2 separate regions of the Homo sapiens genome follow, and region 1 is linked to region 2. A link means that fine-mapping ties the variant in region 2 to the expression of a gene that starts in the linked region. Tissue or cell type: subcutaneous fat. Region 2 holds a variant in brackets; the other region holds the start of a gene. All regions are shown on one strand. Distances are between the middles of the regions.

Evidence for each region. PIP is the estimated chance that this variant, and not a neighbour inherited with it, causes the effect.
Region 1: LRRC4B starts here. The variant in region 2 is fine-mapped to the expression of LRRC4B in subcutaneous fat (GTEx, PIP above 0.99). The same link has a PIP of 0.9 or more in thyroid and visceral fat.

The regions. Positions count from the first base shown.
Region 1 is chr19:50,563,485-50,571,484 of GRCh38, forward strand. LRRC4B (leucine rich repeat containing 4B) reads right to left here and starts at 4,951. Exons shown (of 3, transcript NM_001080457.2): 1 at 4,460-4,951.
Region 2 is chr19:50,544,062-50,552,061 of GRCh38, forward strand. LRRC4B (leucine rich repeat containing 4B) reads right to left here. Exons shown (of 3, transcript NM_001080457.2): 2 at 4,481-4,812. The coding sequence starts at 4,777. Among named protein-coding and RNA genes, the nearest start is that of LRRC4B, 20 kb to the right of the region's middle. RefSeq lists an enhancer at 7,701-8,000. The variant TC/T (reference allele first, on the strand shown) is at 3,262.

The DNA of each region.
Region 1 (8,000 bases), 19 kb after region 2:
TGCCAGGCACAGAGGGGAGCCCTGTCCTTTGCACCCCTATCTGGAGGTGAGGCCCTCCCTCCAGAAACAGCGTCCGCATCCCAGGTCCTCTAAGGCAGCCCCTGCTCTCCACCTGCTCTGGGGCCAAATGTGCAGCCTGGTGTACAGAGAAGCCCACCCCCTGCCTACGGGCTGTGATGCCACATGCTGGGGACAAGAGTGTGGGGTCTGTGGCCCACCCCAGCCATCAGCCAGCTGAGAAGGACAGGCTGCAACATGGTGCCTTCACGCAACGCTGACTTTCCAACACTGTGAGGGGCTGGCAGTTTCACAGCAGATCCTGGTCCTGGAGAATGGGCGTGTGCTCTGCGTCCTGGCAGTCTTAAGAACCACTTCTCCCAGAGAAGGATAAGACTCTTCCTGCTCTCGGCAAGGGAAGGAGGCCATTTAAGTGGAAACAGGGCCCAGTCAAAGTGAGGCTTGGAGTTAGGGCAAACTGATGGGGGGATGAAGGAGGAGGGGCAGAGAGAGGACCCGGCAAGGGAAACCAAGGGAAGGAGAGTGGAGAGGGTGACAGGGCACAAAGAGATGGAGCAGAGAGGAAGAGGAGCAAACAGCAGAGGTTGCAAACTCCTCTGTCTATGGAGCCCAGCAGGGAAGATGATCCCGATGCTGGTTAGAGGGGAGAGTGGGGAGTGGTGGCCCTTTGCACCTGAGCACAACCCACAGTTATCCAGGGGGAAGACGATTCCAAAAGCTGACAGTCTAGATTTTTATGCAAAATCTCTAATTTAAAAAATGTTGGCAACAAATTAAACATGTTGAAAGCACTGGGGGAAAATAACCCTCTTGGGCCGCCCGGAGGACCCCAGGTAAGTGAGTCCTCAGGGATGTGGGGAGAGGGAGCCACGGGGAAGGAGCAGGGGAGGCGGGGAGGCAGACAGGCTGGCAGGAACAGCAGCAGAGGTGAGGGCGAGTGACACAGAGGGACAAAGAAGGGAGGCACAGAGAGCGGTGTCGAGCAGAGACAGAAATAGAGGCAGGTTTCACAGCAGATGGGGTGGGAGAGGGAAAGACTGATGAATGAGTCCACAGACTAGACGGATGGGCCAGGTCAGCAAGACATTGGGGGCTGGGAGGGCAAAGGGTCAGTCCCAGGGAAGATGAGGGGAGATGGAGAGGCGAGACGGCTTGACAGAGACAGGAGGTCCAGGTGACACCTCGAGACAGATGCCCGGCCAGAGAGAGTGGGGTGAGAAGGGATGAAATGCAGGGAGAGAGGATGGAGAGAGAGAACCAGTGTGAGCTACACAGCAGGTGTCCTAGCAGGTGAGACAGGTGATTGAGGGGGTGGGGACCCTGGCAAGAAAGCAGGGCCAGGGTTCCGGAAGGGACTGAGGATTCAGCGGCCACCCCCGCCCCCAATCCCCAACCCACAGCACCTCTGCCTGAAGATCGGCCTCTCTGCATGGGCCCTGAGGGTGTGTGTGCAGGCACATGTGTGCACAGGCTCTGCTTGTGAGAGATGCCAGCGCCCTCTGATACCTGATGTCTTAATTCTGCTGACCTCTCGGACGGCGAGGAGGTCCCTGAGGAGCCCCGTGGCGAGAGGAACACTCTCAGGGCTGTCTCTGAGTGGGATTAAGGGTGACTGCTGGATGGGGCTGGCCCTCCCTGCAGTGCACACACGTGCCTCCGACGCTGGCACTCGGTTTGGTGTGTGCGCCACAGTGCACAGCTCTGTGACTGTCTTAGCGGCACCTGGGGCTGCATCTCTGTAGCTCTGGGGCCACCTCCGTGCCTTTTGCCTTGTGTCTGTCCGTAGGCGTGAGGCCACGAGGCCACAGGACCACAAGGCAAGGGCCTCCTGCCTTTGTCTCTCCCTCCAGGTCTGTGTACGAAGGACTGTGTGTGTCTCTGTGTGACACACGACTACAGGTCTGGGGACTGCTCCCTGTCTCTCCTGACCACTGGCTGACTGAGTGTGGGGGCTGCGTCTGCAACTGGGCCTCTCTGGTTCCATATCGGGGTCTCTGGCTGCCAGTGAATGACTGTGTGCTCTCGTGTGTGTGTGTGTGTGTGTGTGTGTGTGTGTGTGTACCTGCCAGGGGAATCTTTGCCTCCACGTGCCCCGTGTCTTCCTCGCACGCTCCCACTCTCTGTCGCTGACTTGCTGACTTGGGGTCCCTCTGACAAGTCAGAAGCGGCCTCTAATCCCCCAGAACTCTGGTGGCCAGTGTCCCCCGGCTCCCTGCTGGCCCCAGCAGGCACCCCGCGGGTCTGTCCCACCCTCCCTGAGTCTGTGGCTCCCTGCGTCTCTGCCTCACCCGCGTGTCTGCTCTCTGGGTGGGAGTGGCGTGTGTCCCCGGCTCCCCGACTCTTTCTTTCGGAAATTAAGTGAGTAACTCCGTGACTCCGTGCTGATGCCCTAATTGCCTGTATGTGTGTTTCGGAGGCTGGGTCCCTTCTCTCCCTCTGTGCCTCCCTCCCTGGCTCCCACTCTTCCCTTCCTTGGGTCTCTCTCCCCGCCTTTCGGCGGCTTCACTCTCTGTCCCTCATTTCTCTGTGTGCGTTTGGACAATCCGGTGGCCAGGAGGAGAGGAGCCCCAGGGAGGAGGAGGAGGAGGAAGGTGGGAAGGCGAAGTGGAGGCTGCGGAAAGGCAGGTTAGAAGGCGAAGGCTGCGGAAGATGCTACAGGAAGAGGGAGGTGCGGTCCTGGCCGCGGTCCGGGGGTGGGGGGCGGGAGTTTTCAGGCTCCTGGACCAGGAGGGAAGCCGGCTCCGGCTACTCCCAGCTGCCTGGAGCCCGAGTTCCTGTCTGGCGGCTGCGCGGCCGGGACTTGGGATGTGAGGCGCATAGCAATGGGGCGCTGCGGAGGCGCCACTGCAGCTCCCAGCTGGAGAGGGGGGCGGGGAGGGGGCCGAGGGGCAGCCCCGAGGCTCCCTTCCCCCTCCCCCTTCCCAGCTGGGCTCTCCCCAGGGGAATTCCCCACCCCGACAGAAAGTCACCAGAGGCTGCGGGGAGGGGGCAGGGAGGAGGGGAGGGCGCCTAGGAGGAGAGCAGAGGTGAGGAGGTCTGGGGAAGGAGATGGGGGTGCAGAGAGGAGGCGAAGGGGTGGAGGGGTGGGCAAGAGGCCATCCTGGGCTCTGGAGACTCGAGTCCTGGAGAGAGACTGGCTGGGCCCCTGGCAGGACAGGACCCCAGGGAGGCAGGGGCATAGAGATGGGGGGAACCCTGAGAGCCCGGGATTGATGGTGAGTTGGAAGGAGAGGCTCCCAAAAGGAGAGAGCTAGGATTGGGGGGGTCTGAGACTGGGGAGTACTATGGGGTGAGGAGACAACGATGGAGGGGGTCTCTGGGTGATGAAAGGTCATAGAAGGATGTTTCAGAGAGTGATGGGCTAAGGAGAAGGCGACTGGGGGTGTTGGGGAGAAAGGGGAGAGGCTGGGGTGCAAGGCCCAAAGAGGGGCGGGGAGGGAGTGGGAGGAGGGAGCTAGAGGAGAGGGCGGCTGAAGTGAGGGTCTCCTGGACAGAAGGTCTGGAGAGGGATATCTGGGGGATTGTCAGAGATGGGGGTTAGAGAAGGCTGAGGAGCAGATGCCGTGTCTTAGAAGGTCCTAGAAGAGCAGGTGTGAGGGTCGGAAGCCTGGGGAGGAGGCAGCAAATGGGGGGCGGGGGTCTCCAGGAGGAGAGGTTTCCAGGAGGGGAGGGCGGAGGGAGGTGGGAGAGGCAGTGGTCCTGGAGAGACACGTGCCCAAGGATAGAAGGCCCCAAAGCCTAGTGGGGTCAGGGAACGGGGGTCTTGGAGAGACGGAGGGGCAGGGGTCCGAGCCGCCCACCAGGAGAGGCGGGGTGACCCCAGAGGGAGAAGGGCTGAAGACTGGGGAGGGGGTTGTCTCACTCCCCAATCACCCCCTCCGTCTTTCCCATTTTCACTTCCCAAACTCCCCGGTTCTCCCCGGTTGCCACGGCAACCGCTCTTGCCAGGCGCGGTCACCAAGGAAACCCCGTGCCCGCCTCTCCCCCCTCCCCATCACTGGCGTGCCCCCCCCACCCCAAGCAGCAGCGGTGTGGAGGGTGGGAGGGGCCATGGGGAGAGGAAGAACCTGGACTCCCGCCCCAGAAAGGGGGGCCCGGACCTACGCCCGGAGAGCCCCCCACCCTAAGCCTACTTCCTCAGCCCCACAGCTGGATACGCAGCGACCGCCGGACGCACCCCCCACAACCTGTCCCCAGGCAGCGGCGACAACCACCCCCCCCACAGCACAGAACTCGCCCTGCCCGGAGAACCCCCACCCAGTCGCCTCCCCCACCGGCTTCTGCCTCCCATTAGGCCCCGCCCCCTGTCCTCTGCCATCCCCCCCCATCCCGGAGGAGGCCTAAGACCACTGTCCCCCAATTAGCGAATGCCCCCCACCCACCCCCCGCGGTTCCGCCTCCGGCCCCCGCCCCCGACCCGTGCCCCTTGGCGGCTACTCACAGCGAGGAGAGGGGTTCCTTCCGGGGGGCAGCATGCCCGGCCCGTGGGGGGAGGACCCCCCCAATGAGGCTCAGGAATTTGGGGTGCAAGGCCCGCTGCGGGGAGGCGCGGGGGGCGGGGCTGCGGCCGGGCCTGGAGCCTCTCGCGCTCTCCCCCCTCCCCGGCTCCTGGGTGGGGAGGGGGCTTCCGCAGCGGCGGCGGTGGGGCTGGGGGGGCCGCTCTGCCTCCTCGCCTCGCGCCCGCCTGCCGTCCGGCCCCGCGCCCTCGCCCGCCGCCCGCCTTCCTTCTTGCCTTCCTTTCTTTCCTTCTTTCTTTCCTGGCTTCCTTCCTTCCAGCCTTCCTTCCTTCCTTCCTCCCTCCTCGGGCCCGCCGGCGCCGCTCTCCCCCCACCCCACCCCCCCCCAGGCCCCGGCCCCGGCCCCGGCCCCCGCCTCGGACGGTGCGGCAGCGACCGAGAGCAGCCGAGAGCGGCGGAGACGGGAGCGGAATACTGATGATGGTGGGAGCGGGCGGGCGGAGGGAGGGAGCAGGGAGGGAGGCCCGGGAGGAGAGGAAGGGGGGAGAGAGGGAGGGGAGGGAGGGCAGCGTGGAGAGGGAGGAAGGAAAGAGGGGGGAAGAACCGGAGAGGATGGGAGAGGGAGGGAAGAAAGGAGAGGGAGACGGGAGGGAAGGGGAAGGGGGGGAGGAAAGAAGAGGGAAGGGGAGGAAAGAAGGAAGGAAGTGGGAAGGGGGTGGAAGAAAGAAGAGGGGGAGAAAAAGGGGAGGAGCAGGGGAGAGAGGAGGGAAAGGGGAGAGGGTGTGGGAGGGGAGGGGAGAGGAGGGGGTAACTCCTGCAATAAGGTCCTGGATGAAGGGGAGGGGAGGGCGGGGGGCAGGGGGAGTGGGTAGAGGAAGAGGAAAGGAGGGAGAGGAGGAGTGGAGGGGGAGATGGGTAGAGAGATGGGCAGGAGAGGCCCAGGGGCAGGGAAGTGAGGGGAAAGAGGAGGTAGGGAAGGCCTAACTTTGAGGGCTGCAGGGGACAGAGGGGCCTGGAGGGCGGCGGGGGCTGTGGGGAGAAGAATGGGGGGTGCGGTGTGCGTTGTCAGGAAGAGCAGGGGAAGCTGGCAGGACCCGGAAGAGGCAGGAGGATCTAAGTGGGACAGAGATGAGAGGATGGAAGAGGGAGGGAAGGACCCGTCGGGGGGAGGGGGGAGGAGAAAGATCTCGGGGGAGAGGAGAGAAGCTGGGGAGCTGGAGCTTTGAGGGCCCAAGACTGGGTGGCAAGAGCCCGGGGAGTAGACAGAGTGGGGGAGGGGACAGAGGGCCTTTCTTGAACTCCGCTGTATGCCCGCTTCGTCCGCCCCTCCACCTCATGAAGAGAAGAACCTTCAAACCCATTTTCCAGAAGAGACCACTGAGCTCTTGGAGGAGCCAGGATGGGGTTTGAATGCAGTCTTGGGCTGGGGGTACCCTGAGGGAGATGGAGAATGGGTCAGTTCCTAGCTTTCGTCCCTGGTCCAGACTTGGCAGGTGGAGGCACCTGGGAGGGGCAGAGGGCACAGCCTGCAGCCTCCCTACTCACTCTCCTCTCACCTCCCCCAGGTGTTGGCAGCGGGTGCTGGGGACGCATTTAGAGCTGTGAAGCTGAGCTGCATCTTGGGTGCAGGGAGGGGGAGGGCAGATGCAGAGGCCTCTGGGAGGTCACCGTGACCCTCCCCTCTACCTCCCCGGTCCACTACCCCAAAAGCTTGGGCCCCAAGGAAGGGGGACATCGGGAATCAGGGGCGGAGAAACCCAGAAGGAGGGGTGGCCCCTGTCCAGGACACTGAAGATCCTTCCAGATGTTAAAATTAGCACAGAAGTTTCACCCCTGCCTTGTTATCCCCCAAAACGCTGACTAATAACTGAGGACTCAGGAGAGAGAGAAGAAAGATGAAGGTTCCTTCTTTCAGTGCCAGGGGACCCGGGACAGACTCTCCCTCTTCCCCTTCTCCTCGGAGAGCCCCAGGGAGGGAAAGTGTGGCTGTACCCCTGCAGGCAGAGCCTGGGGAGAGTCAGGGTTGGAAGCTGGAAGGAAAGTGGGCCAGACACATCTATAATGAGCCAGGGTTCCCGAGAGAAGCCAGGTCACAGATGGGTTCGGAAGAGGCGGTTTTGGGTGGGCGCTGGTGGGTGCTGAGCCCTGAGAGCTGCCGAGAGGGGAAACTGAGAAGGGGCTGGGCGAGGGCCAGGGAGTGGCAGGTGGCTGTGGTGCTTCGGGTTTCACCCGCCCCTGGCGCCGCTCAAGTCTAGTTCGTGAGACTGGACCAGTGAATGTGTGTGTGCACCAGGGTCCAGCACAGAGTAGGCCAGGACCGATGGTGATACCAGCAAAACAGAATCACATGGTGGCAGCCCGCGGTTCCTCCTGGTCTCCCACAGGCCAGATGCTGTGCCCAGCACCTCACAAGCGTGGCATCAATCCTGCAACCATGCGGTACCAACTCCTAGGGATGGTGGTACCTGGTGGGCACAGGTGAGAGCAGGCCCCTGATGAGCCCTGAGTTAACCCTTTCATTACAAGAGGGTCTCGGCCGGGCATGGTGGCTCGCACCTGTAATCCCAGCACTTTGTGAGGCCGAGGCGGGAGGATCACTTGAGGTCGGGAGTTCGAGACCAGCCTGGCCAACATGGTGAAACCCCATCTCTACTAAAAATACAAAAATTAGCCAGGCATGGTGGTGCGCGCCTGTAATCCCAGCTACTCGGGAGGCTGAGGCACGAGAATCACTTGAACTCGGGAGGCCTCCAGAGGTTGCAGTGAGCCGAGATCACGTTATTGCACTCCAGCCTGGGTGACAGAGCGAAACTCAGTCTCAAAAAACAAACCAAGAGGGTCTCAGGTGAGAGGCCAAGCCGTGTCAGGTGGGGCCGTTAGAGAAGCAGGGAAGTATTCCAATATTTGAACAACCAGCGAACCCTCTTGGTCCATGCAGCCTAAGTCTCAGCCCTGCCTGGAGGGTATGACTGCCCCTGTTTTACTGAAGGAGAAATGATTTGCCGTCAACCTCCAGAGCTCATCAAGGGTCTTCAGCACCGGGCACTGTTCAGGGCTTTGAGAGCCCGGCCGGAGAACAGTAAGGAGACAGCCCCTGTCCCCGTGGAACTGACCCCTCAAGGTCCTATTTCCAAGAGCAGTGTGAGCAATGAAGAAAATAAGAGGACAATTAGGGAGGAGAGAAGTTGGTGGGCGGTCAGGAGGACAGACTTGAGGTGATCAGGGGAGGCCTCCTGGAGGAGGTGTCTTTTGTGGCGAGGCCAAAATAAGGAGATAGCTCATTGCGTGCACAGGGGCAAGCACCTGGGGCAGAGGCCCCCAGATGGCAGCAAGCCGGGCCCGTTTGAGAGATGGGAGCCAGATAGGTGTGGCGTGGAGGAAGAAGAGAAGCAGAGTGGAAAAAGATGAGGATGCGGCCCCAGGTTTGGCTCAAACACAAAACCAAATCTTAACGCTTCCCACTGTCCCCTAAACCTTGCCCTAAGGCTTAACTCTAATCTCCCACTCAGGTGACTGTCCTGAGCA
Region 2 (8,000 bases):
CTGGGCGTGGTGGTGTGCGCCTGTAATCCCAGCTACTTGGGAGGCTGAGGCGGTAGAATTGCTTGAACGCGGGAGGCAGAGGTTGCAGTGAGCTGAGATTGCACCATTGCACTCCAGCTTGGGCAACAAAAGCAAAACTCCATCTCAAAAAAAATAAAAAATAGGCCGGGCGCAGTGGCTCATGCCTGTAATCCCAGCACTTTGGGAGGCCGAGGCGGGCAGATCACGAAGTCAGGAGATCAAGACCATCCTGGCTAACACAGTGAAACCTCATCTCTACTAAAAATACAAAAAAATTAGCTGGGTGTGGTGGCGGGCACCTGTAGTCCCAGCTACTTGGGAGGCTGAGGCAGGAGAATGGCGTGAACCCGGGAGGCGGAGCTTGCAGTGAGCCGAGATCACGCCACTGCACTCCAGCCTGGGCGACAGAGCGAGACTCCGTCTCAAAAAAAAAAAATAAATAAAAATATAAATAAAAATAAAAAAATAAAAAAGCTAAAACTCCATTTACAAATCAGCAGCAATTGTGCAACACACTGTGCATGGGTGGGGAGGGTGTCCGAATGCAAAGACACCAAAGCGAAGGAGAGCTACCCATGGCTGTGGGATTATGGTTGGCTTCTGTCTTCCTGTTTTTACTTAGGTATATTTTCTAGTTTTTCTCAATTAATTTATATTCATTCTGTAATAAGTAATTAAAAATACACTTATGGCTGGGTTAGGTGGTTTATACCTGTAATCCCAGCACTTTGGGAGGCCAAGGTGGGTGAATTGCTTGGGTCCAGGAGTTCAAGACCAGCCTGGGAAACATAGTGAGACCCTGTCTTCATAAAAAAGAAAAAAAATCGAGACCATCCTGGCTAACACGGTGAAACCCTGTCTCTACTAAAAATACAAAAAATTAGCCGGACGTGGTGGGTGGCGCCTGTAATCCCAGCTACTCAGGAGGCTGAGGCGGGAGAATGGTGTGAACCCAGGAGGCGGAGCTTGCAGTGAGCCAAGATCGTACCACTGCACTCCAGCCTGGGCAACAGAGCGAAGACTCCATCTCAAAAAAAAAAAAAGGTCAGGCTTGGTGGCTCACGCCTGTAATCCTGGCACTTTGGGAGTCCGAGGCGGGCAGATCATCTGAGGTCGGGAGTTCGAGTCTAGCCTGACCAACATGGAGAAACCCTGTCTCTACTAAAAATACAAAATTAGCCGGGCGTGGTGGCACATGCCTGTAATCCCAGCTACTCAAGAAGGCTGAGGCAGGAGAATCACTTGAACCCAGGAGGTGGAGGTTGCGGTGAGCCGAGATCACGCCATTGCACTCCAGCCTGGGTAACAAGAGTGAAACTCCATCTCAAAAAAAAAAAAAAAAAAAAGAATTAGCTGGGTGTGATGGTGTCTCCCAGTAGTCCCAGCTACTCTGGAGGCTGAGGCAGGAGGATCACTTGAGCCAGGGAAGTTAAGGCTGCAGGGAGCCATGATAGTCCCACTGCACTCCAGCCTGAATGACAGAGTGAGACCCTGTCTCTAAAAATGAAACCATTTACATAGAGACAGGAAAGAGCCAGGAAGGCATTAGAACAAAATGTAAACAGTAGTTATTTATATCTGGTGATGGAACTAGGGTGATTTTTTCAATTTTTTATTTGGATAACTAAAGAGTTATTACTTTTTTTTTTTTTTTTTTTTTTAAGACAGGGTCTCTCTGTTGCCCAGGATGGAGTGCAGTGGTGAAATCTCAGCTCACTGCAACCTCTGCCTCCTGGTCTCAAGCAAGCCTCCCACCTCAGCCTCTTAAGTAGCTGGGACCACAGGCTCATGCCACCATACCTGGCTAATTTTTGGTTTTTTAGTGGAGATGGGGATTTGCTGTGTGGCTCAGGCTGGTCTTGAACTCCTGGGCTCAAGCAATCCACCTGCCTCAGTCTCCCAAAGTGCTGGGATTACAGGCATGAGTCACCGCGCCAGGCTAAAAGTTATTACTTTTTAAAGAGCCTCTGGGCCAGGCGTGGTGGCTCACGCCTGTAATCCCAGCACTTTGGGAGGCCGAGGCGGGTGGATCACCTGAGGTCAGGAGTTCGAGACCAGCCTGGCCAACCTGGTGAAACCTCGTCTCTACTAAAAATATAAAAATTTGCTGAGCGTGGCAGCAGGCGCCTGTAATCCCAGCTACTCAAGAGACTGAGGCGGAAGACTCGCTTGAACCCGGGAGGTGGAGGTTACAATGAGCCAACGTTGCGCCACTGCACTCCAGCCTGGGAGACAGAGCGAGACTCTGTCTCAAAATAAATAAATAAATAAATACAAAAATAAAGAGCCTCTGATTACCCTCGACGTGGTCCATGCCTCTTGCTGTCTGGGATGTGTCCACTGAGGGAGGCCAAGCCCACTGACAAACACTCACAAGCATCCACTCTCGTGGACTGGACGAACACACCCTCCATCCATGTCTCTGGGTGGGGCAGGGGGCGGTGCAAGAACCCCTGGGTGGGGAGGATGAGAAATAGAGGCGTCTGGATCCCTATTGATGCTTTTCACCCTTTGACAATGTCCACCTTGGGTGTGTGCTTTACCAGGTGCATGATATACGGAGGGAGCGGGCCTGTGCATGACTTATCATAAATGAATGTACGTCCGCTGGTGGCGCTCAGCACGTTTGTGGGACTGAATTGTTCACTGAGCCCCCTCGCCCCCCCACAAAGAGAAACGGGTCCAGGTTCTACGACGGGGATGTTGCCACGGCCTGGGGCTGCTGGTGAGTGGCGTGGGTGCCTCCCTGTCCCACGCTCTCCCTGGCCATTTCTGCAAAGCGCGTTTCCCTGGCGTGCCGTCCCAGCCACTGGCTCCTTTTCCTCCTCATTTCTTCCCCACTAGAATGTGAGCTGCCGGGGCTAGGGCTGGGCTTTGCCTGGCTCGGTCACCACCCAGGACAGGGCTTGGTGCAGAGCCGGTGCTGCCGGTGTCTGTTGAACGTCACGTGTATAAGTGGGGGAAGGATGGAGTGCAGGGAAGCCGGGGGCAGGTGCATGGGGACCGCACAGTGCGGAATGTCACCTGCTCAAGGGAGATGTGGATGGATCGGTGGAGACTGCAACTAGGGAGATGCAGGGCAGACTCAAAGCAAACTGGCAGACATGGGAGCCTGTGGGAGGTGGGCGTGGACAGAGGGACAAGGCCCTGCGGGAGCGGGGGGTGGTGATGTGACGACGCCCCTGACGTTTCTGGACCCCTTCGCTGGCCCTTGCCCCACAGCCACCAGGAAGGGACTGC[TC/T]CCCTGAGAGGTCCCTTTTCTTCCCTGAATCTGGCTCTCAGGATGGTCAGATGGGAGCAGCCAAGTCCTCCCACCCTTTCCCAGGGACAGACCAGGCAGAAAAGCAGCCGCATTTCTTACGGGAGCTGTTACATCTGGAAGATTAGATCTGGAGGGGCTGGGACCTCTGGCATCGGCACCCTCTTCTCTCCCAGCTTTACAGGCTGGAACAGGAGGAGGCTTGCTTGGAGGCAGGAGTTGGACCAAATCAGCCTGGGGTAATGATCCCCTGGGAATCACTGGCAATGCCTGGAGATATTTTTGGAACTGGGGGTGGGGTGCTACTGGCATCTAGTGGCCGGAAATGCTGGTAAACATCCTACAGCACACAGGACAGAGCCCCCCACCCTGCCCGCCAAAGGATGATAGGGCAGGCCCCAAATGTCAATAGGGCAGAGGTTGAGAAGCCCTGCTTTCTAATAGCACAGCTCTGTCCCCCCAAGCCCTCGCTTACGGCCTATCCTAATCAGAGTCATCATTAATTGAGTGGCAGCTGCCCCATCCTGAGCACCAGCCACAGGCCACCATGGCGCCAAGCACCACAGCGTTCTCAGCCTCTCTGCTCTCCAATTCTCACACCAGCTCCAGGAAATGGGGACGCAAACCCTGCACTGCCCGGCAAATGACCATGGAAACGCCTCCTGTCCTCTGACCACTCGCCAGGTGCCAGCACACAAGCTAACGCCCCAATAAGTACCAGACCCATCAGCCCTCACAGCAACACCTCAACGCAGGGGCTTGCATTGTCCCCGCTTTTCAGATGAAGAAACTGAGGCTCAGAATCATGCCGTCACCTTCCCAAGGCCACGAGAGGGTGTGGTGGTGCAGATGCCACAGGGGTCCCTGTGAAAGGGTTGCTCTCCACACCCCAGGGACTCCAGGGCTCGGCCTAGGCCGACCCGCCTGTCCTGTGCCGGGGGGGCTGGGCAGGTGGCCTGCACTTGGGCCCCGACACGGTGGCTCAGAGACAGGGAGCACTGTGCTCTCAAAGCCCGGAGGGCCTCCACTCCACCTCGGGAGCCCGGCTCCAGCTGATAGGATGCAGACCCGCAGGCCACATCCACAGGTGCCGGAGACGGGGAAGCCCCGGTGTGGGGAGGCCCAGAAGGGATGGGCTACATCTGCATGCCTCCCCAGTGTCCCCTCCAAGGTCCCCCTCTGCCCGCTGGCCCCGCATACCTGGATGCCGTTCTCTTGCAGGTTCAGGTACCGCGTGTTGACCGGGATGCTGGCTGGGACCTCGGCCAGGTCTCTCCGTGTGCAGATCACCCGGCTGGCCTGGTTGCTGCAGGAGCAGGCCACGGGGCAGGAGGTGGCCGGCGGGGAGCCCCCTCCGGCGGCAGACGTCACGGCCACTCCACCTCCACCGGCCCCCAGGGGTGGGGAGAAGAGCCAGAGGAAGAGCAATGCCCCGTGGGGCCAGGACATCCTACCGGGCGGCAGCGGGGGGCACGGGGAGCCGCGGGCACGCGCCATCCTCAATGTTCATGCTCCGCGTGGACGCTGGGGGGCTGTGGGTGGGGGAGAGAAGGGGGAGAGGCTTGGTGAGGGACAGGAGCCCATGTGGCCTGGGTGCTTGCCAACACCCAGGCAGCCCCATCGCCGCCTCCCTGCCCCATGCCCAGAACAAAGGGACAGGGAGGGAGACAGCTGCCGATGGACCCACCCAGCAGGCTGGGGCAGGCAGAGGGAAGCTTGGCCCGCCTGGCCCTGCACTAGCTCATCCTCTCCATGCTGGCAAGATTCTACGCCCATTCTGCAGCAGGGAAAACTGAGGCTGGGGGAGAGGAAGTGCCTGCCCAAGGTCACTCATCCAGTAAGTGCAGAAGTTGTCCAGATTCAAAACCCAGTTCTTTGCATGACTTCAAAAAGGTAGATACATCAGAGGAGTGAGACAGACAGACAGACAGACAAGGCGAGGGGGCAGAAACGGGGAAGAGCAAGCGAGGTGGCGAGGACCTCGCTCCCATCCCAACACCCGCCCGGTCCCCTTGCCACCTGCGTGATCACCTGGGAGGTGGGTCCCAGCCTCCTCTCCCCTCCACTCCCTCCCCCTCTCCCCATCCCAGGGATGTTAGCGAAGAGATGCATTTCCCCCACCCCCTGTGCCCTCAGCTAAACCGAAAGACCCTCCGCTGCACACCCTCCTGTCACTGCCCACCCTGTCCAGGCCCTGTGGGGGCCTCACAGCAGCTTCAGAGACTTGAGTCAGACTCATGGGAGAATCTGAGGGAGAGAGAGGTAAGGTGGCAGACAAGGCAACCGTGGAGGTGACAGGTGTGGGCAGGTGAAGGGAGGGCTGGGAGGCAGCAGGGTGAAGAGGGAGGAGACTGGAGCTTGTGTGTGAGGGTGGCTGGGGACCTGACGGGGGGCGGCACAGGCCGAGAGGCCACCAGCTGCACCCCCTCCTTTGCCCCGAGACTGTGGGTGCTCCAGGCAGAGACAGCCCCGATGGGACTCATGCCAGCTGCTGCCGCAGGACCGAGCTTGGTTCTCGGGGAGGGGATGGGGAAGGGAAGGGGGTCCAGGGACTCTGCCTGGGTTCTGGGAGGAAAGCAGACAGCGGGGACTCGGGCCCTCTGAGAAGTCACGCTGTACCTCCCCAATCTGTCCTGCCCCGCCATTTCCATGGAACCAGAGAGGGAAAGGGGATGGGTGAGTCACAGCAACGATACCAGTAACAATAGTCTCTCCGGAACACTGGGTGAGCCCTTGCAATGCAGCAAACTGTATCCCGGTCATCTCATGTGAGCCTCATAATGACCATAGGAGAAAGCTATTAGGATGCCCAATTTACAGATGGGGACACTGAGGCACTATGAGGGAAAACGGCCTGTCCAAGGGCACAGAGCAGGCCGGGAGGGCGCAGAGGGGGTACTTCGGCCCTGGGTCTACCCTCTGGCTCCCAGCTCTCCTTTGCACGCAGCATCTCTGAGTACACACAAATACACCCACACCAGCAGGCCCTGCCCCAACACAGGCCAACCCCAAACCATTCCCAAGAGACCAGGAGGAGGGCAGGTCACACAAACACGCACACCGACCCACTCACACACTCAGCAGTGATGGGGCACACCCTCTCACGGTGGACTCTCAGGACCCCCCTCTCACGGTGGACTCTCAGGACCCCCGACACAGGCTCACCCCCAGGCACACGGCTATGCACACACACAGTCACTCCCTCCTCCTGCAGTTTCCAAGACCATTTTAACCCAGATAAAAATGTGTGTGCATACGTCTGTGTATCTGAGTGCATGTGTGAGAGCGAGGGCTAGACAGAGACACAGAGAGACAGAGACAGAAGCAGAGGCAGAGAGACAGAGGGCAGGGGAAAGAGGGAGCTGGGGAGAGAAAGAGAGAGAGGTTGATTCTGTGTCCACCCGGGCTCATTTTTCTCCTGCAGGGCTGGGGCCGTGTGTCTGTGTCTGACTATGTGAGTGCGGTGAGGGTCTTCATTTTCCTGAATGTGAACAGGGAGGTCAATGCCCAGTCCTTATCCTGGGTCAGGGGCTCCTACCTCTTAAGACCCTGGCGATGATCCAGCCCACACCCTCTTAGCCAAAGGGCTGGCCCAAAGCGCAGGGCCTGGATTTGAGGCCGGGGGACCCCGCAGGGCCTGTGGGAGCCCACGGCACCCACCCCGGCCTCCAGGCCTGCCGCTGCCATGTCTACCTCCGCATCTGTCCCCAGCTCTCCCGCTGCCAGCCCGCATCCCCCCACCCCCATCACGGCTTCTGCAGCGACTCGGCCTCCCTCCCCTTCCCCCCGCCGCCCTCCGCCATCTCCCATCCTTTTCTCCCCACAACCCCACGGTGGGGGACACTCACCCTGGTGGCTTGGCTTCCGCTGGGCCTCTCCCTGCGCCCAGGCCCCCCCCTCCACATGCCTCCGGCCAGCCGGGGTCTCTGCCTCCCCAGTTCTCCAGGGCTTCCTGTCGAGATCGTGCTGGGGGGGGCGCAGGGGCTTCTTGGGTCTCCCCGCGCCCCCCCCACTGGCCTGTCGCCCTTCCCACCCCTGGGGGGGGCTGTCCTTTGGCCACTGCAGCAGTTCTCTGCTCCCCTCCCCGCTCGCCTCCTCCGGTCTCCTTCCACCCCCTCTCCCACCTCTACCTCGACTCTCCCCCGACCGCAGCCTCCTTTCTCTCCACCCACCGACCCCAGCCCCCTTAACTCTCTCTCTGCCCCTCTCGGTCCTCCCCCTCCGCCTCTGGTCCCCGTCCACCTCCTCTGGCCTCAACCCCCTCCTGAGTCTCCCCCCTCACAATCTTGCCTCCCTCGGGACCCCCAGGCCCCTTCTCTCCTTCTCCTCCATCTATTCCTCCCTCTTGCTCTATCCCTGTCACCCTCTCATCGGCCCTGAGCCCGTCTCAGTCAGGTTGTCTGTCTGTCCGTCTGTCTTGGTCCCTTTCTCCCCGGCTCTGTCTGTCTCTCTCTTTCTCCGCGATTACAATTTCTAGTCACACGGCAGTGCAGAGCCAAGCTGTGCCTCAGCTCCCTCCCTCCCCACCCCTCCCTCCTTCTTTCTCTCCTTCTGAACGGGGAGGGCGCCTCTCCTCCCTCCTCCTCAGCCTCCCTTCCCTGCGCCGCCTGGGGGAGGCCTCCCCCTCCCCCGCTAATCAAAGGCTCCGTTATCTAATTAACCCATTGGTTCTGGGCAGCCGAGGAGGCAGCCGAGGAAGGTCGGGGGAAGCGGGGGAGGA